3 separate regions of the Homo sapiens genome follow, and regions 2 and 3 are each linked to region 1. Evidence: fine-mapped expression QTL. A gene starts in region 1. Each other region holds a variant in brackets. All regions are shown on one strand. Distances are from middle to middle.

Evidence for each region. PIP is the estimated chance that this variant, and not a neighbour inherited with it, causes the effect.
Region 2: its variant is the best candidate, but not a certain one, in a credible set for the expression of MICU3 in fibroblasts (GTEx, PIP 0.75).
Region 3: its variant is the best candidate, but not a certain one, in a credible set for the expression of MICU3 in prefrontal cortex (BrainSeq, PIP 0.79).

The regions. Positions count from the first base shown.
Region 1 is chr8:17,018,082-17,029,208 of GRCh38, reverse strand. MICU3 (mitochondrial calcium uptake family member 3) reads right to left here and starts at 1,971. Exons shown (of 15, transcript NM_181723.3): 1 at 1,549-1,971. The coding sequence starts at 1,929. RefSeq lists an enhancer at 1,344-1,433 and a silencer at 1,584-1,993.
Region 2 is chr8:17,076,193-17,081,192 of GRCh38, reverse strand. MICU3 (mitochondrial calcium uptake family member 3) reads right to left here. Exons shown (of 15, transcript NM_181723.3): 4 at 3,332-3,410. Among named protein-coding and RNA genes, the nearest start is that of MICU3, 51 kb to the right of the region's middle. The variant ATG/G (reference allele first, on the strand shown) is at 2,048.
Region 3 is chr8:17,095,917-17,100,916 of GRCh38, reverse strand. MICU3 (mitochondrial calcium uptake family member 3) reads right to left here. Exons shown (of 15, transcript NM_181723.3): 9 at 2,364-2,459. Among named protein-coding and RNA genes, the nearest start is that of ZDHHC2, 58 kb to the left of the region's middle. The variant G/C (reference allele first, on the strand shown) is at 2,675.

The DNA of each region.
Region 1 (11,127 bases):
CCACCACGCTCAGCCAAAAAATAAATTTATTTAATGTTCTTTAGTAGTACCATTGTTTTAAATATACTGTGTTAACTCATTTAACTCTCATAACACCCCAGGAGACTATTAGCCTCATTTCACAGGTGAGGAAACAGGCATTGACAGGTCAAGTAATTTCTCCATAATGACACAAGTAGCAAGTCGTGGAGCCAAAGTTCTAGCTTTCTGAACGTGGTCTTTTTAAAAACTGCAAGATAACATCTCTCAACTGTAAAAGTAAAATTAATTTTAAGAAAGAAAAGAAAATACTACTTGAATTCCCTACCTTGCTGATCTGTTCCTAGACCAACTATGGTTAATTAAAAGTTCTGCCATCATGAAAAACGCTATGCTCCTTGCCAAGCCACAAAAGTGGATGTGTATTTGTGAAGGGGGAGGGGGTGGAGATTTGAGGGTATTTCCTAGTATTTTGAATATTCATGTGTAAAAGGACTTTATGTTATGTGCTTGTGATCTGCTGCTAGATAGTCCATAAAGCAGATTCCGTAACCTAATTGCATTGACAACCTCCACCAAAGGAAATGATGCACTTACATCAGATCACCACTGCGTATTAAGAACAAAGCCTATAAAAATTGCATTAGAAACAGCATAGCTCTCTGTTTTCTAAATTATTTTCATCTACGCCGTTCACATTCTTCGAGCCTTGCAAGGAAAATCTCCTTAATTTTCCTAGTCATTTACATGACTATTAAATATACTGATGCGACAAAAAAAATCACGCTCCTTTACTCACTGTTGCCTTTCACACATCTTTACCTTGTATTATTAACTACATAATGACAGTTGAACATTTTCACGTGACTTTCTTCTGTAGGAGTTTGTGTCATTCACAGCCTCCTACATTTGCTATCCTATCCATTTTGTGTTTTATCGTTACCTACTAACGGGATTCTGGCTTTAGTGGGGGAAGGAAAAAGAGAGAAATACTTATGTCTCTTTTTGAACAATTTTTTATTTCTTTTCAGACCTGGTAACATCAACATTCCCTGGGTATGATAAGGGCGTTAGCATGCAGGTTTAGCATTTCCTTTCTTGGGACTAATAAATTCTCATATGCTAAAGTAGTGGCTTTTGAGATCTCAGACCGCTGCTTCGAAACTCATTCTAATGCAACAGACCTCCTGGGTCATTAGCTGTCGCCCCGCGCAATCTAGGAGTTCCTTTTTCCCACACCTACAGCGGTCCACTTTCTGCCTGTCATGGCCTTCATTTCTGAATCTTTTTTTGTAAGAGGGGGAGGGGTGTTGGTTTTGGGTTTGGATTGATACTTGGTAGCTGCAGCCACCTTTAAGGTCCTGATGCATCAGGGACAGCATCACTGGTCTTCCCAATACGTGGGTGACCGGATCCTAGGCTGTCCGGCCTAGGTGTCAGCCTCGCTCACGGGAAGTTCCTCACCCGCGGCCACAGCGCTTGCACCGTCCCCACAGCCTCCAGGGTCCTGCGTACCCGGCACGAAGGTCACATCCCCCGCGCAGGTGTGACGCGCGCTCGCGCACTCACCGTCTCCTTGGCAGCCGCCACTGGGATGGGCAGCATCCCCCGGCCGCGGGGCGGGTCCTCGGGCTCCGTGGCCGCGCTCTTTGAGGGTCGCCCGGTCGCCGGCGAGCCGGCCCTGGGGTCCCCGTACAGCTGGTAGCATACCAGGCCGACCAGCCCCCCGCCGGCCGCCGCCGCCACGCTCAGCTCCCCCCAGCGCCGCCGCCGCCTCCATGCCGCCTCCGCCACAGCCCTCTCCTCATCCTCTCGGGAGGAGAAGGGCCGGCCAGGAAGGCCCAGGGTGGTCACCGCAGGCCGCCCCCACGGCCCAAGGAGGGGCTGGTGAGCGCAGAGTGGAGGAGACACCCGGGGTGGCGGCCACAAGAGCCTTCGCAGCGCAGCCATAGCGGAGGCCGCCCACACCAGAGCTGGGAGGGGGCAGAGAACGGAGGGGCGGGGGCGGGGGGGGGGGTCGCCGAAATCTCGCGAGAAGTCGGTGCCGCGAGCTTCGCGGCCGGCCGAGAGCGACCCCTACACTCGCGCGGCCCCGGGGACCCGCGACGCCACCTTCAGCGTAGCGGTCCCGTGGTTCGGCCCGGGAAGATCATGGAAGAGGCGGCGGATCCCGGCTGCTCCCCGGCCCCGAACCCCCAGCCCAACCACGCAGTCATAAATAACCGCGCCAGCCCGGCGACACCTGGCTACGCGACAGCGCGACACTGCGGGCACAGCCGAGTCAGCGTAACTGAGGCGCGGCCGAGTGCGGGGCTCTCTGGGGCCCGCGCCGCTGCTACGGGCGGGGTGGGTCTCCGAGCTGGGCTCAGCGCCCGTCTGGGACACTCACATTCCCTAACGGTCTCCTGACCTCAGGAAACTCAAGGTCTTGACTCAAGGTCGTGAACGATTTGCAATTGTATCTTCACATATACGACACAAATGAGGTATAAGCATTTGGCTCAAGTCATAACGATTGCAAATTAAGGCAAACACTTTGACGACTGAAGGGCAGCTTCCGGACTTTTGATGGGAGAAGGCTAATGCTGTTTTTTAGAAGCATTAGCACACCCGCGGTCACTTAATTCAACAAATCAGAACTGTCTTGTGCATATAAAAGTTAAAAATTTTAAAACTTCTGTGAATAAAGATAAAATCTTGAACGATACCCTGATTTTTCAGGGAAGCGCTGTTTGTATAAATATAAAATAAATGAGAAGCGTATTGTGTCATCTTTTTGTTTTTACTGTACTTTTTGTTTGCTATGTTATCAGTATCAGTTTTTATGAGAAAGTGTAGATGAAGTTCCTATCAGTTTCTCTCCCCAGACCCCAGTTTTGGTAACTTGAATTATGTTAGCTTTTTCTTCCTACTATGGAATGGTGCCAGGAGTCCCTAAAATATTGTGGATCTAAGGGGACAGACAACTAAATACAGTGGTCTCAATTGGGCTGCAGTGACAAGAGAATACACCATCAGTTGATTCTGGCAATTCTTGTAAAGACTAAAGGCTTTCAGAGACGACCAAATGAGTTTTTTCTGGCTCAGGTCCTACAATTTCTTCCCTTTTTTTTTTCTTTTTTTGAGACGGAGTCTTGCTCTGTTGCCCAGGCTAGAGTGCAGTGGCACATTCTCGGCTCACTGCAACGTCCGTCTCCCTGGTTCAAGCGATTCTCCTGCCTCAGCCTCCCGAGTAGCTGGGATTACAGGCACCCGCCACCGTGCCTGGCTAATTTTTGTGTTTTTAGTAGAGATGGGGGTCTCACCATCTTGGCCTGGCTGGCCTCGAACTCCTGGAGGTCCTGCAATTTCTATTCCTAACACCTTGCATGTAAATAGCACATCAGGTACACCCTGTTACCTCTTATTTTAATAGAGGTTAATGGCATTTTGCTTTCTTAAAGCTGCTAAAAGCGGTAAGAAGAAAAATCTTCTGTAGCAGATGAACAAATTTTGTGTATTTTAAAACCTGTCTCTGAGTTTTCTTCAGTTTCAGCCTGTGGGTTTTATGGAGTCAATGCCTAAGGAAGACTCTGATAGCGTCTTGCTTTATCACCAAATTTTCCTCAATTTATGCTTTCTCTATATTCTGTGAAATGGTAGTTTCCCCAAATAAATTATCTTCTGGGTAATAATTATATATATTATATATAATATAATAATCATATTGGCCGGGCGTGGTGGCTCACACTTGTAATCCCAGCACTTTGGGAGGCCGAGGCGGGTGGATCATGAGGTCAGGAGATAGAGCCCATCCTGGCTAACACGGTGAAACCCCATCTCTACTAAAAATACAAAAAACTTAAAAAAAAAAAAGCCAGGTGTGGTGGCATGCGCCTGTAGTCCCAACTACTCAGGAGCCTGGGACAGGAGAACTGTTTGAACCCGGGAGGTGGAGGTTTCAGTGAGCCGAGACTGTGCCGCTGCACTCCAGCGTGGGTGACAGAGCGAAACTCTGTCTCAAAAAAAAAAAATTATAATAATAGTTCTGACACTGTTTACTTTGAACTGAACATGATTTCCTGATTTTCTCATAAATTCTTATTATAGTCTAATGCCAGAATTCTTGGACAAACTGATCAATTTTTACTAGTTGCATGTTAAAAGCTAAGTAGTTCTAAAGAAGATTAGGGAGGTAATACAATAACATCACATTACAGATGAGGAAAATGACATCCTTCATCTAAGATGACAAATACAGACACATACGTATAGATTTCTATGTAGTTTCTCTATAGTTTTCTAAATTTGATAGAGCTCCTGCAAACAATTTATCTGGTTAGAAGCTAAGTACTGCTGTGAGAAGGGCTAAGTTTATGTTTGTAGATCAGTCAGAGAACTTTGGATAAAATACCTCTCACGTGCAAAAACAGCTTTACTAATAATTTTCAACAGTACTTTCCCTCTAAAGGTGAAATTTCCTTAAGAATAGTTACTGTTTTCTTCCCACGTTTGATGCTCTGTAACTATAGCTACACAAAAATAACCAAATTCCCTTGTTATGTGGATATTTTTCTGAGTTTAATTCCCAGAGGAAAAATTTTAAGAAAATATGATATTAGGAATTTGGAACCTTTTTTTTTTGAAATTTCAGGTAATATTGTTGGATCAATATAGAGTCAACCCAGTATCCCTTATCTTTTATGTCAATTCTACTGAGCATTAAGAATAACCCCCAAAATGCCCCTACTCCACAGTGAGAGCCCACACCTTGAAAGAAATATCCACTTATCGTTCACTATGGTCTAAATAAAAAGAAATGTTCTGAAACAATAAAAATGTTTCAAACAATGGGGATTAAGCCAAAAAGGGTTTTCCAGGAAAGCATATACCTCAGTGAATAAGTAATAAATTAGAAGTGAAGAAATCTGGACTCCAGTCTTGGATTTGCTGCATCTTAATTATAATGCTTTGGAAGCCACAGTCTCTAAAATAGTGGAGTTGAAATAGATGATCACCCCTGAACCCATCTTTCTAATGAACTAAAATGCTCCAAGTGTATCAGTAAACCATAGAAAGATACTTCATGGTATTTTTCATGTATCATTTCTCTTCTGAAAATCTACAATTGGCCTAAGATTGTTTTATTCTTTCAACTTAAAATTCCATCCCCGGACCACGCAGGCTAACGTCTGTAATCCCAGCACTTTGGGAGGCCAAGGTGAGTTGATCACTCAGGAGTTCGAGACCAACCTGGGCAATATGGCAAAACTTCGTCTCTACAAAAAATACAAAAATTAGCCAGGCATAGTGGTGCGTGCTTATGGTCCCAGCTACTCGGGAGGCTGAAATAGGAGGATGGCTTGAACCGGGGAAAAGGAGGTTGCAGTAAGCCATCACTGAGCCACTGCACTCTAGCCTGGGTGAGAGAGCAAGACTATGTTTAAAAAAAAAAAAATCCATTCCTTTATCTAATTATTTTAACCTTCTACTGCATTTAAAATTGCAAATACGTTAGTGATTTTGAAAAGTTTGAAAAAGTGGAATATAAGTGCAATAGGCAGGAATGTCTTGTTTAACAAAACTTCTATTAAAATATACTGCATTCCTTATTTTGGTCATTCTGAGCTCCAGATTCTTGACTAGTTAAAAGAGCAGCAGTTACATCTGAGATCTGTATCAGGGCACATGAACCACCCCATCCCCAGGTCCACTCAAGTCTACCAGCAGAGAGCAAGGTTGCAACCATCTTCTTCTCTCTTGGGAAAGTTGTCATCATTTTCTCAAATTGCCTTCCACCTTCCATGCTGTCTTCCTTAGGGCAAAACTGACATAGGAGACAGTGTTGGGGAAGGTATGTTCTTGCTCTGTTTTCTTCAAAGTGCTACCCACCAGCAATCTAGAACTCAATTCCTCAGCATCCAGGGCTATGGAAACCAAGTTACACAAGACACTGAGGGTCTGTTTTCTGTTTTGATGAGCTCTCATTCCCAAAGACTGTGATCTGTATCTCACCCTTTTTCCATTAGGCAAAGCCAAGCTGACTCTAAGCAACATGAGGCCAGGGTATGCATCTTCTAGCCCAGTTCCTGGCACACATTAGGACCTCAATTATATTTACTAAATGAAAAGCAATGTCTTGAAAAGGGGGGAAGGTGGAGGTCAACATAGGAAGGCAAGTTAGGTGACAAGGAAATACAATGGCCCATCAGACACTAAACAAGCTGACAAACCAAGCAGCACATCAATGAGGAAATGCAATCAACACAGATGGGAGGCCAAAGGGAAAAAGCAAGGGACTGGCAAAGAAGGATCACAGATAGAGTGTGGGCTAGGTGAAGTGGCTCACACCTGTAATCCCAGCACTTTGGGAGGCCAAGGCAGGAGGATCATTTGAAGCCAGAAGTTCAAGGCCGGCCAGAGAAACATAGTGAGAACCTGTCTCTACAAAAATTAAAATTAAAATTAGCCAGGAGTGGTGGTGCATGCCTGCAGTCCCAGCAGCTCAGGAGGCTGAGGTGGGATGATTGCTTGCCCCAGGAGTTCGAGGCTGCAGTGAGCTATGATCATGCCACTGCACTCCAGCCCCTGGGTGACAAAGCAAGACCCTCTAAAAAAAGGGGAGGGGGGTGGACAACAAAGTATGATCATGCAGAAAGCTTGATTCAAGAACAGATTTTGTGATTTTCAGATTCTAGCACTGAAGTTATCCTGTTACTATGATTTGGCCGTATCCTCCTGGACTAGAGCCTTAAAGCCATAGGTTTTCCCCAAGGCTCTCTCCATTTTTTTTTTTTTCTAGGCGGAGTCTTGCTTTGTCACCAGACTGGAGCGCAGTGGCGCGATCTCGGCTCACTGCAACCTCCGCCTCCCAGGTTCAAGCAATTCTCCTGCCTCAGCCTCCCGAGTAGCTGGGACTACAGGCGAGCGCCACCATGCCCAGCTAATTTTTGTATTTTTAGTAGAGACGGGATTTCACCATGTTGGCTAGGATGGTTTCGATCTCCTGACCTCATGATCTGCCCGCCTCGGCCTCCCAAAGTGCTGGGATTACAGGCGTGGGCCACAGTGCCCAGCCGGCTCTGTCCATTCTTTTGGTCCTCCGAGGAAAATGCAGCATCATCCATGGCCAAACATCAGTGATTGACTGGCCACACCTCCCCTTTTGTTCTTAGATCTTTCACTGGGGACAATAACCAAGCTGGCAATTGTACACTTTTAACTACCTTTCCAGAGCAGTAACACCCTCGGTTTGACTACTACGTCTATCCAGTCTGTTTTACATAATTTCCAGGGTCTTTGTTGATGGTGTCTCACTGTTCAATTTCTGCTGTTTAAGTCCCACAATCCCCTGTGTCTTTGTTCTCCATTTGGTGGTAGTGACTTCTTATGTACTTGGGACACAGGCAATAGCAGGACGGACTTACTACCAGCAAAGCCTCCCACCGGAAAACAAGGAAGCTCTTTCTCAATTGTCTTTTCCTATTTTCATGTCTGATAGTGATTAAAGCTTCTATGTCCATTAAAAAGTGTCTTCTGGTGCAGAATAACCTCATAGTAACATAATGATCACCCATTACACAAGAGTGACACTTTGGTAGCAAAATGTTATGGGATCTTTGGGGTGTTGTTTTCCTGTCCAGAAACCTCTGTGGCCAGTGGTTCCTTTGCCTGAGTTTTGATTGGGCCCGCTGGGCTTAGCAGTGTCTACTGAAGCTGGACATATGCATATCCTATGACCCATTAATTTCACTTTTTAGGTGAAAGACTCATGAAAAGAAATGAGTACTTATGTCCATCAAAAGACATATACAGGAGGCTGGGCACAGTGGGTGGCTCATGCCTGTAATCCCAGCACTTTGAGAGGCCAAGGCGGGCAGATCACGAGGTCAGGAGATCGAGACCATCCTGGCTAACACGGTGAAACCCCATCTCTACTAAAATTACAAAAAAATTAGCTGGCTGTGGTGGTGGGCACCTGTAGTCCCAGCTAATCGGGAGGCTGAGGCAGGAGAATGGCATGAACCCGGGAAGCGGAGCTAGCAGTGAGCCGAGATCGCGCCACTGCACTCCAGCCTGGGTGACAGAGTGAGACTCCATCTCAAAAAAAAAAAAAAAAAAAAAGACATATAGAGGAATATTCATAGTAGCATCATTTCTAATTGGCAACAAACCAGAAACTATTCATATGTTCATCAACAGTGGCTTGGATTATTTAAAAATGTGGCATATTCACATAATGAAATGATATAAAGCAATGAAAATTACTGAATTGCAACTACATGCAATCACTGGGATAAATTTTAAAGCAAAAGTGAGGTAAAGAAGGCAGACACAAAAGAACCAACTTTATTACTCTATTTTAAAAGCTCAACAACAACAACAACAACAAATAGATATAAATAACATTAGACATTAGGATGGTGGTCTCCCTGGGTGCAGGGAAGTGATTAGAAGGCAGAAAAAGGAGCTTTGGGAGTTCTGTGTCTTGATATGGGTGCCAATGACACGTGTATTTACTCTATAAATATTCGTAGAGCTGTCCAGTTATAATTTCTATAACATTTTTATATACGTAACACTTCAATAAAAAGTTTATATAGAAGAAAACATAGATTTTCTTCCTAATGCTCTTATACTAATGTGTTATTTACTAGAGGACTTTGCTCAGTTATGAACTATACAACTTTAAAGGAATGTGTAGAGCTTGAAAAGAGTTCAACTAAGAACAATAAAATTGATTGAAGAATTGGAAACTAAAGGAAAAGTTTAGCTTATATAAGCTTGATATAGCCTGAGAAGATTTAACCAAGGAGTATTTTAATAAACATCTTTTACTACTTGAAGACTACTAAGAAGATACTATTAGTGATTTTTCGTATTTATTAAGGAAAAGACCAAAAGGAACTTTGTATTTTAAGCAAACAATGTAGTGTTTTAACTTCTTTAACTTGCAGCATTTTCTCCTCTGAAGCGTCCATATGGACAGAGCCAGTGGGTATGTGATCGTAAGGCCTAGTGCAACCAGTACATACCCTTGGTTCTGGCTCTAACCCCCGACTGTCAGGTGTTGGATGGGGAAATTGCTTCAGGAGCAGATAAACAAATAGAAGGGCAGTCTTCAGAACAGATGGAAAGCTCAGAATAAAGAGGGAGCCATTAGAGACATCAAGAATAGCATAAGGTTAGTCAGTGTACATACCTGCAGAAGTTTAGTGGGATGGCAACCAGTTTCATCCCCTGCCAACTTCAGTTGATTGATATTGGTTGTCCAGAACACTGTGCTAAGTAAAATTATCAGGCCAGGCCCAGAAATCACAGGAAAAAGTAGGTCAGTATCTCTGCTAAGACTGGGCTATCAGATTGGGACTGAGTTGAGTTAGTTGTAAGTCCACCGTGGTTCTTTGGAAACGCTCTACTAGGAGAAGATAATGCAAACAACAGTAGGAACAGAACAGCTGAAAAAAAAGTTCAAATGTTTTTGTAATATGCATGGCAACATTTAATATTTACCCTATAAAGTTATAGAAGACCAAAAATAATTTAGAGATAGCTCAGTCTGGGAATTTTCTAATCTTTCTAAGTTTTTGTTGGGGGGTGGTGGGCGTGGGGTGGGGAGGGGAGTGCTTAGTGAAAACTGTTTGCCAAAAGAAGTCTTGTTTCTTAAGCCCCAAAACACAAAGTAGATAACAGCAGAGTGTCTGTAGTGGAAAAGGAGGGAAATCCGGACCTTGTCCATTTAAAGATTCCTTTTCAGCTCTCACAGTGGAGCCTGAAGTAACTTTGTAGACTACTGGGGCTTAAATACCACTGAAATATACACTCGTTCCATTTTTACTGACTGACGAGGAAACTGAGAGGCTGCCAGGTTAAAGGATTTTCTTTGAGTTATACTACCAGAAATTGAGCCTAGATATTCTGCCCTACATCTAGATAGTTCCTGCATTACAATCATCAGAAACTGACGGAATTTAAAACCGTTTTTCTTAAGGCATATTAATTTCCAAGGAATCAAATAGCAATTGCATTAGCTCAAGTAAAAGACACATTTTAAGGATAAAATTATAGAGAATCCAGAGAAAAGTGGTACTATGAGGTGTCAGGAAGTGTGGTAACCGGGTCAGCTCTAGGGACCTACATCATAAGAGCTCAAGGACATTCATTCTAGCACACTGCTGTGAGCATGACTTGGCTACTAATTCTACCAATCTCTATGAATCTTAATGCAAATCCTAAAGAGAAAGCATTAGGTTGGTCTGGCCTATAGACGTTTTCTTCCTTTGTTAGTTTTTCACTCCTAGGCCAGCCAGCTGTGTCTGGGAGGAAAGGTGTGGAGTCATATGGAGATGCAGTTTCTGGGAAAGGGAGAACAACTTCCCTTAGAAGGCCCTGTGGGCAGGTATCAGTGATGTGCTGGTAAGGTGTTAACAATGGGTTCTGGGGTAGAAGAGGTGGGGAGTTCTGACTTGTAGTGTTTTCAGATTTCCATGGCGTAAATACTCCCACCGTGGTGATTTCAGGCTACCAATACGACATTACTGATTGCAGATTGGGAAGAGATGCATGGTAGCACATTACGTGGAATTTCCACTATCTACATCATATAAAAGATATAATGGTAAAGTAAAAGTGATGTTTTTAGTGCTTATTACATTTTATATTTACCTAATAAATATAAATTATATTACGTTTAATATAATTATCTAATTGTAAGTTTACATAATTTAATTTTTAATAAAGTCTCTAATAACTGGCTCAAAAATTCCTGAAAATTTAACTATCAGCTCTAGTGAGTTAGTGCAAGCTGGCTCCAGCCCACCAATATGGTATTTAAACATCACCATCTCCACTTGAGTTTGGAGGCTCTTGAAGACCGCTTTTGACATAAGAAAAGGACAGGGTGAGTGGGACATATGACTAAGCCAAAAAAGATTAGGATTAAGAATTTGCATTTATGGAAGCATCACTTGCACCCAGGAGTTCAAGGTTCCAGTGAGCTATGTTCACATCACTGCACTCCAGCCTGAGTGGCAGAGTGACACTCTGTCTCCAAAAAAGAGTAAAAATAAAAATAACAATATGCCGGGCAAAGTGGCTCACACCTGTAATCCCAGCACTTTGGGAGGCCGAGGCAGGGAGATCGCTTGGGCCCAGGAGTTCGAGACCAGC
Region 2 (5,000 bases), 55 kb before region 1:
TTTCTGCTTTCAAATTATCTTCAATGCTTCTATTAAATGTACCCTGAGGAGTTTTTATTGTAATTAAATGGCTTATACTTTCTGTACATCGCATCCTGAGTTCTCAGTAACTCCATACTTGCAAATTTCAAAAGGAGTGCTTTTGAAGTAAATAAAAAAGTGCATTCTGTTACTTGAATTCTTGCTTTTGGAATACAAAACCCAAAACTAGATTTAGTGCTTCAACTGACCTTCCAAGTAGATACTGAGAAGATTGACATCAGTAATCTGTATCTACAATACTTATTTAGATATCAGATAGTTCTGACGCTTGGTAAAAGGGTATAAAAATCCTTAAAATAACCAGATTGTGAACTTTAAAACTCCATTTTATCTGATGTTCTTTGAGGCTGTCTTCTTTGTTACAGAACAAAGAGAAGAGGAGTCACTGTCAGGCAGTTTGTCAGAGACATGAAGGGCACTAGCCAGGAGGCCCTGAAAGCATTCATTCCCTTCTTTTGTTTATACTAGAATATTGTGACCTATAGACAGATAGTTCTGGTTGATTGCCATGAATGTTATGGGAGAAAGATTCTGGAATGGTCAATGTATATAAAGATACAATACTTAAGAGTCTGTAGGGATCCCTCAAAAAATGAAAGAAGAGCATAAAAGAAGGGGCGAGAAAAGGAAATGGGATGGGAAATGGGCATGCTGTCTCCATAATCCCATCTCACTAACTGTTGTTCTAGTTGACCTGGTAGAATACACAAGAGATGTTGGTTGGTATAAAGAACTTTAATAACTGTTATGCATCTTTTATTTGATAGTTAACTCAAGATTTCCCTCAAGGAAAGGACTACTTAATAGTGAGTGTCCAGACCATGAATATCATGGTAGGCGTTTGTCTGTAGGATCACATGGTGATTGAAGTGGCTTAAACCACAGGGAAGAAAAATGAAGTGAAACCCATGATATATTATAATTTAATAAAAATGGTCAAGGAAAAGAGAAAATACTACTGAAGATGAACGGTATATTTTTAATGCTTTCCAATTATACAAACAGAATACTATAAAACTAACTCTTCAATTTATTTATGGCGTGCAGGATCAAAAAATACAAAAAAAAAAGCTAGGCATATAGTAATGGTGTGATCTTTAGAAACAGAGGATAAGAAAGATGCCAACTAGGTTTCTTTCGAAAATTCAATCAAAACAAATTTTAAGGGAAGTTCCTTAAAAGCATTACATGGTTTAATTCCTATACACAATACATTGCAGTTGGCTGTTATAATTAAGTCTCTACAATACATGTTTTCATGAATGCATATCAATTTTTTTATTATTTAAATGCATAACATTTTCTCTCGAGGTAATATTTTAAGTAGATAAACTTACAATTTTAAAATTAGTCTTTAGCCAGGCATGGTGGCTCACACCTATAATCTCAGCACTTTTGGGAGGCCGAGGCAAGAGGACCGTTTGAGTCCAGAAGTTCAAAACCAGCCTGGGCAACAAAGTGAGACTTTGTCTCTACAAAAACTCAAAAAATGAGGGGGAAGAATCGCTTAAGCCCAGGAGGTCAAGGCTGCAATGAGCCATGATGGCACCACTGCACTCCCGCCTGGGTGACAAAATGAGACCCTGACTCAATAAATAAATAAAATAAAACAAAAATAAAAATAAAATTAGTCTTCAATAGCTCTAAAGATTTAGTCTTAAAATTTCTCTGCCACTTAATCGCTATTTAAAAAAAGCAAGGCTCTTCTAACTTCTCTATTTTACCTAACCTAATGATTCTAAAACTTTCTGGGATCATGCATCACCCTGATGATCTAATTAATATGATACAGATACGCATTGTACTACAGGGTGTAGCTATTTAAATTTAAAATACTTAAAATCAAATACAACTAAAAATAAGTTCCTCAGTTACGCTAGACACATTTCAAGTGCTCAACAGCCATATGCGGCTAGTAGCTACCATAAGAGACAGCATAGAAACAGAGTATTTCCGTCATAGTGGTGCAGCATAGATTCTATCCCCTGGGGAAAAAAATGCAAAC[ATG/G]TGTATAACATGAGAAGGATTAGGATATGCCTAAACCTAGGACTTCCAGATTAAACCCTCCCCTTAACTTAAAAAAGGTTCTTTCTTCTATGCATTATTTTTCTCAGATTATATTTGATCCAATTTGTATTTTCCCATGAGGTATATTAAGAAAAATGTTTGAAATTCACCATACTTACTTGATCCTTATGAGCTTTGAATTTTCCTCATCCTATTATCTCACCCTAAGATCTGAATGGCAATCTTTAAGACAACATCTAGGAAAAAAATTTCTAAGATTTTTTTTAAGACACTTTGGCCTAGGTTTCTTGAAGATTTAAAAATCTTACTTATGAAACACCTACAATAAAAGATATGGTGTCTCTTCCTTTCAGATTCTATGTAAACCACGTGGAAGCAATATGAACTTTCTAATTCTACTTAAATAAAATATATGAATTATAACTACTCCTTCAAAGTATTTGTCTTCAGGCTGAAGTACATTATTTTCAAGCCAATATTGGTTAAAATTGATGAAAAGGGAAAATATAACTGCTTATGTAATTTCTTTAACATTTTTATTTTGCATATTCCTGTATTTGAGGATACAAAAAATACATTTCCAAGAAATATTACTTTTTAAGATTAAAAAGATTAATAAATTTTTTCTACAAATGTGTAAAAAGGTACCCTGTAAAAGAAAATTACAATAAAAGCCATATAATTTGATTGCCAGGAAATGTTTAAATTAATGAATTAAGCTAATATTGATATTGATAATAGAGTAAGTTGAAACAGGTATATTTGCAGTAAGTGTTGGCCTTTAAAGGAAACATGTCCAAATTAGGCTGTCAAAGGACACATCCACTAAATTTTTCCTGTTAATTAGTTTAGGAGCATCTATAATTCACTCAGAGCAAAATGGAAGGAAGAAAAATAGACCTTTGAAGATCTAGTATTTTTGTGAAATGTTTTCTTTGGGTAAATATAAAATATACTTTTTGATATGGTTGAAGAACAATTTTTTAAACTATGTAAGTCCAATCTGATATAAAAAAATTTGGAAGATACAAATAATATATAAACAATAACATGAAAACCACCCTTAATGAAGGGTGGAATTACCCAAGAGCAACATTAATACCCAGAAATGTTAATATTTTGCTGTTTTCTTCTTCAGTTTTTTCTCTATGCATACACATAGATGTAATTTAAAAATTATTTTAGGTATGGGAAAATATGCATATATAAATAGTATACATAATATAGTTTAAAAAAAGAACAAGTACTAAGGTTAACTCACCTTTTTCTTTAAGATTTCGAAATAGCTTCGATGAGCCTTTCCAAACTGGTGGTGTTTCTGCGAGCATTTGATTTAATTCCTATGACAGAAGTTATACTACTGATGAATTGGTAAACAACTTACTAATAAAATAGATCAAAAACATGTTTAAATGTCCATGCCAAATTCTCCACTTAAAAGACCTGAAACATGGCATTATTTATCCTATGTTATGCCTGTGGTTCATTCAAGCACACAACCCAGTATTTGCCCACAGTTCAAACATAAAATAAATGATGAAGAGGCTACATTAAATTTAATTAGAGCTAACTAAAATTTCAGATAAGTTGAATAACGGGAGGTTATACATAAGACAACCAAATCAAGATAAAACAGTGAGTTTAAGTCCTGGAGCCAGTTATAAAGGAATCGTTTTAGGAAAATCATGGAAAAACATGGATTTCCATATCAAGGTCGGAGATGGTCACATCACCCGGCTTCACGTAATGTCTCTTCTTTGTAACACATTTGGAATTAGAGAACTTTGTGTAGAGGAAGTAAATGAACAAAGAATTATGTTAGAAAGGAATGAAGAGTATTTTAACGGTTAGTGACTTAGAGAATGATAACAATGGATGAAGCAGAAAGACAAGGGTACTGAGTTATTGTGGTCACTGTTTCAATTTGTTTCTAATTTTAACTTAAATATTAAAGAACACAGACTTCAACTGCTGCTTAGCTTTTTCTTTTTTAAAAAACTCAAACTATCACTGCTGCTCGGAAACTACTGGAGAATTTAGACATTTGAATCATTACTCATATGCTAAATCAATTTTGAATTTATTGTGTATAGTCTGTTAAAAACGACTAAGTGAAAACTATAATTTGATTAATTGTGAAGAAAAATGATTAAAAGACGGTGAGATAACTTGAAATAATTTGAAACAACAAAGTTAGTCTGCTTAGAAACACATTAGACAAACACAGAACCCACTTCTATTTTCAGATCTGACACCCACTCCTCAGAGCATGTGGCTCCCCAATAGTTTAAGCATCACCTGAGAGCTTGTGCGAAATGCAGAATCTCAGTGCCCATCCCAGACCTACTGAACCACAACCTGCATTTTTAACAACATCTTCTAATTTTTACACACATTGAAGTTTGGAAGGCATTTCAGACAAACCATTTCTGACGCAGCTGTACCTAAAAATGCTTTCTGACATTTATAAATCATTTTTGTTTAACTGCAAAGCTGAGCTAGCAGGAAGAAAAATTCTTGGTATGTCAAAGGCAGGAACAGCATTTTTAGGGGATTTATGGACACCTTGAAGCCCATATGTGGATTCTTGTGTTTGTGTTTTTCATGTTTCTGTATCTGCACTGCAGGTAAAAGATGCCAGCAGATAATCAGTGCATCTGATTATAGAATAGGAATGGCACAGAATAATTCAGGTCCGAATTGTAATGAGAAACTGGGATGTTTATTGTTTAGACAACAGTAAACTCAAATATTTTTGTTAGATTGAGAGATTAAATAAAACATTCTGGGTGGGACTCAGTGGCTCAGGCCTATAATCTCAGCACTTTGGGAGGCTGAGGTGGGTAGATCCCTTGAATCCAAGAGTTTTAGACCAGCCTGGGCAACATGGCAAAACCCCATTTCACAAACAAACAAACAGACAAACAATT
Region 3 (5,000 bases), 75 kb before region 1:
TTCATCTGTAGAACTCAAAACAGTGTTTATAATTTTGACACTGACAGACTGTATTCAACAGTTGCACAATATACTCATCATACTGCACTAAGAATTTATTATATATGATTTTGGTTAGAAAGTAGTCTTAGCTCTGATATTCAAATTTTCATTATATGGTTTCACAGTAATTGGAGACACGGAGTTTTACTGTAATTTTAAAAATCTATGGTTAGAAACAGCTCCAGACTAGAATATGAGGGGCTAATAACCCAATTTCCCTATAATAAACAGATTTTATCTCAATAATTACATATTAAATATATAATAAAGAAATACATATAACAAATAGATTTCCAAGCCTTCTTTCTGAACCAATTTGAATCCTGAAATACTAATACTATAAACAATTCTGTGTTCCGCTGGTATTCACAGTAACCTATAAGGATTTATATAATTAGTTGTAACTGAACTGTAGTTAATTCTCAATTATTATTCTAATGTGGGAGGGTAGTAACAGATAAACCCCAAGTAATTATTTTACTCTGGAACACGATATAAGTTTTCTTTTCTTTTCCTCTTTTTCCTTTCTTGATTGTCTCCATCAGATTTACTTTCATGAAATTTGATTCAATTCATTCATTAATTTAGCAGCTTTGGATCAGAGTGTGGATTAATTACAGCCAATAGTGTGCTGGCAAACTGAGTTGTCCGGGAAAAAAAAAAAAGGCTGATTTGTAATGTTGGCCAGTTTCTGTGGTATTCATACTCCTATCACGGCCACTTTCAAGTAACAAAGGGGGTGTCACAGAATGTTGAGTTGGGAAGAGGTGTGCAGAATTAATTAGCTCTGGGAAGCTGTAAAAGCCCACAGCTCCTCCAGTCTATCTACAACAGAACCATATACCTTTTCCAAAGATCTTACAGAAATCATATAATTCTCTGAGTACACAGGAACTGACTGGTTTTCTGATATTAAACTTCCCAAGATTTAAATTAAATTCAACATCTGATTAGCAGATTTTGTCTAACTGAGAATGTCTACCAGAGTTAAATGGGATGAAGATAGTTGGAGGCTGGAAGGTGGATACTCTAGTATGGGGAGAGACAACAATGATATGACTGTTGATTTGAAGCATGGAAACTAGGACACAGTTGACTTGTATGCACTCTAAGAGTCCCAGTTGCTCTTATTTTTAAGCACTGACTACTACAATGTGCCTACATAATGATTACAAAATAAAGTGCTTCTAAAATATCTGTAAAGGGAACATCTGCCACTTCATACCTAATCATGGCTCATATTGAAAAGGTAATTTTAAAAGGTAATTGTTGGTCATAATTACATCACATTTATATATCACAGACATATTAAACATAGGACAAAATACTTTAATTGCTTTGGGACTTTAAAACTGAGCAAGGGCGACAAAATTAACATTTTCAAGTGTTTGCCCTAGTCTAGATATGTCAATAGAGTAACATTGTATATATGGATAACAGAAGTCACAACTGATTCCAGTTTACTTCTCCAGATATTTTCAGGTGTAACTTCTAAAAGTTAAATTTAAAGTTTAGAAAAAGAAATGAGAAGCCCACTGTAAAGAGAAAGAGATAATGAAAAACAAATCTCAGTATTTATTGAAAAGTCTTTTCTGGTAAGACCGCTAGCTGCCTCTAATAAAGTTCTTAGGAAAAATTCTTAATAAGAAACACAAAACAGTTTTTCTAAGATATGGCCCATCTTGAGAAACTAGAAATCTCTATTGACAGTGGTGTAAGAATGGGATAATGGAAGCAGCCCACTCCGATGCAGCAGTACGATGCAGATCTGTAACAAATTCATAAACAGTAATAGAACTGAAATAAGGTCGGTCTGCTTTTTATTTTCACTATGCACTGGCAATCTTAATGTCAAGGTAAAATATTCCTCCCTTCCTTGACTGGCTGTTCCTACCATACCTTCTCAAACTCCCATACCCCAGGCCCTTGGTAAGCCACTCACTATCAATACTAGGAAATTTGTTTAAATCTAACATAACTCTGAAGAGTCAGGTATCTTTTACTGGGGGAAACATTTCAGCATTTCATGTAACATGGTAAATTGTAAGCTTAAAAGATTCAGTGAAACTTTAAAATATATATATTCTAATTTCTAGAAAGTGATCCTTAAGTTAAAAAAAATGCCATTTCCTTTTAATTAAGTTCAACTGTCAAAGCTGATGTATTCAAATACACAGTTTATATATAGTAATTTTTGCTGTACTAAAACAATGGAAAATGTAACATACATGTTGGGTTTCATCACTGTGACTAAAATGAAATGACGACTAGATTAACAAGATGGCAAATAGTACAAGGACCTTGTTGAGGTTTAATTATACCTCTGCGAGGTCTGAAAACAGTGCTTGGCTTGTGTTACGTCTCAGTGTATCCCAATAGCTTCTGGAGACAAGTTCCTCAGCATCTGTTTTAAGTACCTGTAGAAGTTTTAAGAAGCACAACTGAAATCTAAAGAATAGTTACAAAGAATGATAATTTATACACTTTAAATCTAACCAACCTTGAAAAGGAAACACATTAGCTTACCTTTTTTTGTTTGTTTGTTTTGTTTTCTGCTGTGCACCACAGTATTGTATTACACTGCTGGTAACTCACATACTTTCAAAGGTGTAATGGTATATAACCACTATTT[G/C]TAAGTACAATGTAGCTTTGTCGAAAAGAATCAAATTCTCCGATCTCTCCTTCTGCCCCTCTACTGAAACGTGTGTAACTTCTAAGAAAGGGTGAAAAAAAATTCTATTCACACCTTGTGTGAAGTAAATTTGTTTGGGAAAAATTTTGGTAACTTTGTAGCAACCTATTAAAAGATACATTATTGCTGGCTATCATTTATCTTGCTAGTGTATCAAAGACTCAAAATAACTTTATCTATACTTTACAGAAACAAAGTTTAAATTCATCCCAAACTTGTCAAAAAGAAATAGACCTGTTTTAAGTCAAAGCACTCAAAACTACTTGAGATTTGGCAGGTGTTTCTATTGTGAATGGTTACGGTACTACTTATTATTTATTACAAGGACAGGATACTAAATTCTGAGAACAGGGTAGTCTGAAGGAGATATCAGGAAGTGTAGATTAAAAAGTGTAGTCTAATCACTCTAGGAAGATGTCAAACTGCAAGCCTAACTTGGATCCCCATAAACAAAAATAATTAAACCCAGTTTCTGTCAGGATTTATCAGGGAAGATTTCACAGGTTCTCAGGTGGTCTTTTGGTTAATGTGAGATGAAATGCTGCATGGTGTACTCAAGAGTGGCTGGATGAAAACAGAACTTTTCTTTCTTTCATTTTGCCTTAATCTTTAAAAGTCCAGTGCTCCTAATAAAATTATATGCATCTAGGAATTATTTCAAAGGTCCTCTAAGTTTCAATTCACTATTACTAACTAGAAACACTGCCCACTGCCTATATTTTAATAAAATCTTAATAAAATGTAAATAAAGTATTATTTAGCAGGAACCATTTACATAACACAGACATAAATATTACCATAACTATAAATGTAGCAAATTGACAGAGAATCTGCATCACTCCCTTTATAATAATATAAGCTTTAACTAAGCAGTTATAAACTAAACAGGGAAGACTAGCTAAATATAGAACTAATACAGTTCATTTTATTTTATATAGATATGGAATAACCTCAATAAATACTAGCTAGATCAAATGATTGATCTGAAAATATTATTCACATATTTTGAATGTGGATGCGTTTTAAAAGTTCAACTCAGAAGGTTAATATGTGATAAAGAAAGGGATTGTTAAACCCACCAAACTAGAAAATAAGGCTTACTGTGCACTACTGTTAGAAGAGTAGCAGGAATGATTCACTTTGTGAAGCCATGCCTCATCCTTACTTCCAAACACTGTCCACAATCACACACACACACACACACACACACACACACACACACACACAAATATATTTAGAACGTATTAAGAACTAAAATTAGTTTAACCAACCATGTATTTTGTGGACAAGAAAAAGAAGTAAATATATTAATTATTTCCAAATGTTGGGGTTAGGATATTTTAAATTTTCTTCTTGCTTTGCCATATTTGAAAATATTTTGAAAATGTGTATTTATCTATTAGGATAATATACAACTTTTCAAATTTAAAAAATCTTATTTAGAACGTAACAGTTTTACAAGTGTCCTGCTGCAGAAAGCTTTCTGGTTCATCATTTAGCCTCAGGGATTAAACAATGCTAGGATATACTACTGAATTGCTGTAACTGGATATATTTGTTTTTGTTTTATCTTACATCATCTTTTAAATAATTATAAAGTTTCTGAGGGCAGAAACAACATCCTTACAGCAACTACTGCTGCAGGAAAAAACAGCTAATAAATCAGTGATATGCCTGGCACACTCACTGATTCCTATATATGTAACTGTTCTGGAGACAGTTTTAAATGTTTTAAACAATTTGAACGATGAAGTTAAGAGCACATTCTCAGAATATGCAAACTAGTAGGAAGTTTTATCACCACGAAAATATAATACAGTAAGGATATTTTACATAAGCTTAAAGTAGCAATGAAAGTCAGACTAGATTTTAATAGCAAGAAATGCAAAGCAAATATAAAACCAGAACATATCTATGCATACAGGCTAAGTAAGGAAAGGCTGACAGAGAAAAATGCCCAGGTGTAACTGGACACTTTGATGGCTGTGAAACAGACAACTATGATGCTTTGATATGTAAATAGTAGACCAATACGCAAAGACTTCCTGAAGTTTTCTCGGTTATCTTTGTTTGCTATCTGAGCTACTGGCCCCTTTACCAGATGTCATGTAAAATGTGTAGACCTTCATTAAAAGAGGTAAAAGAATATACAGTTAGGTAGCCCAGAACTTCACAAGTGAAAGGCACAGCCAAAATGATGTCCTGCATGTAGTGTGCCCTGTAAGTGTGACACATTTTTTGCTTAAGTTCAGAGTCTGTTATTGAT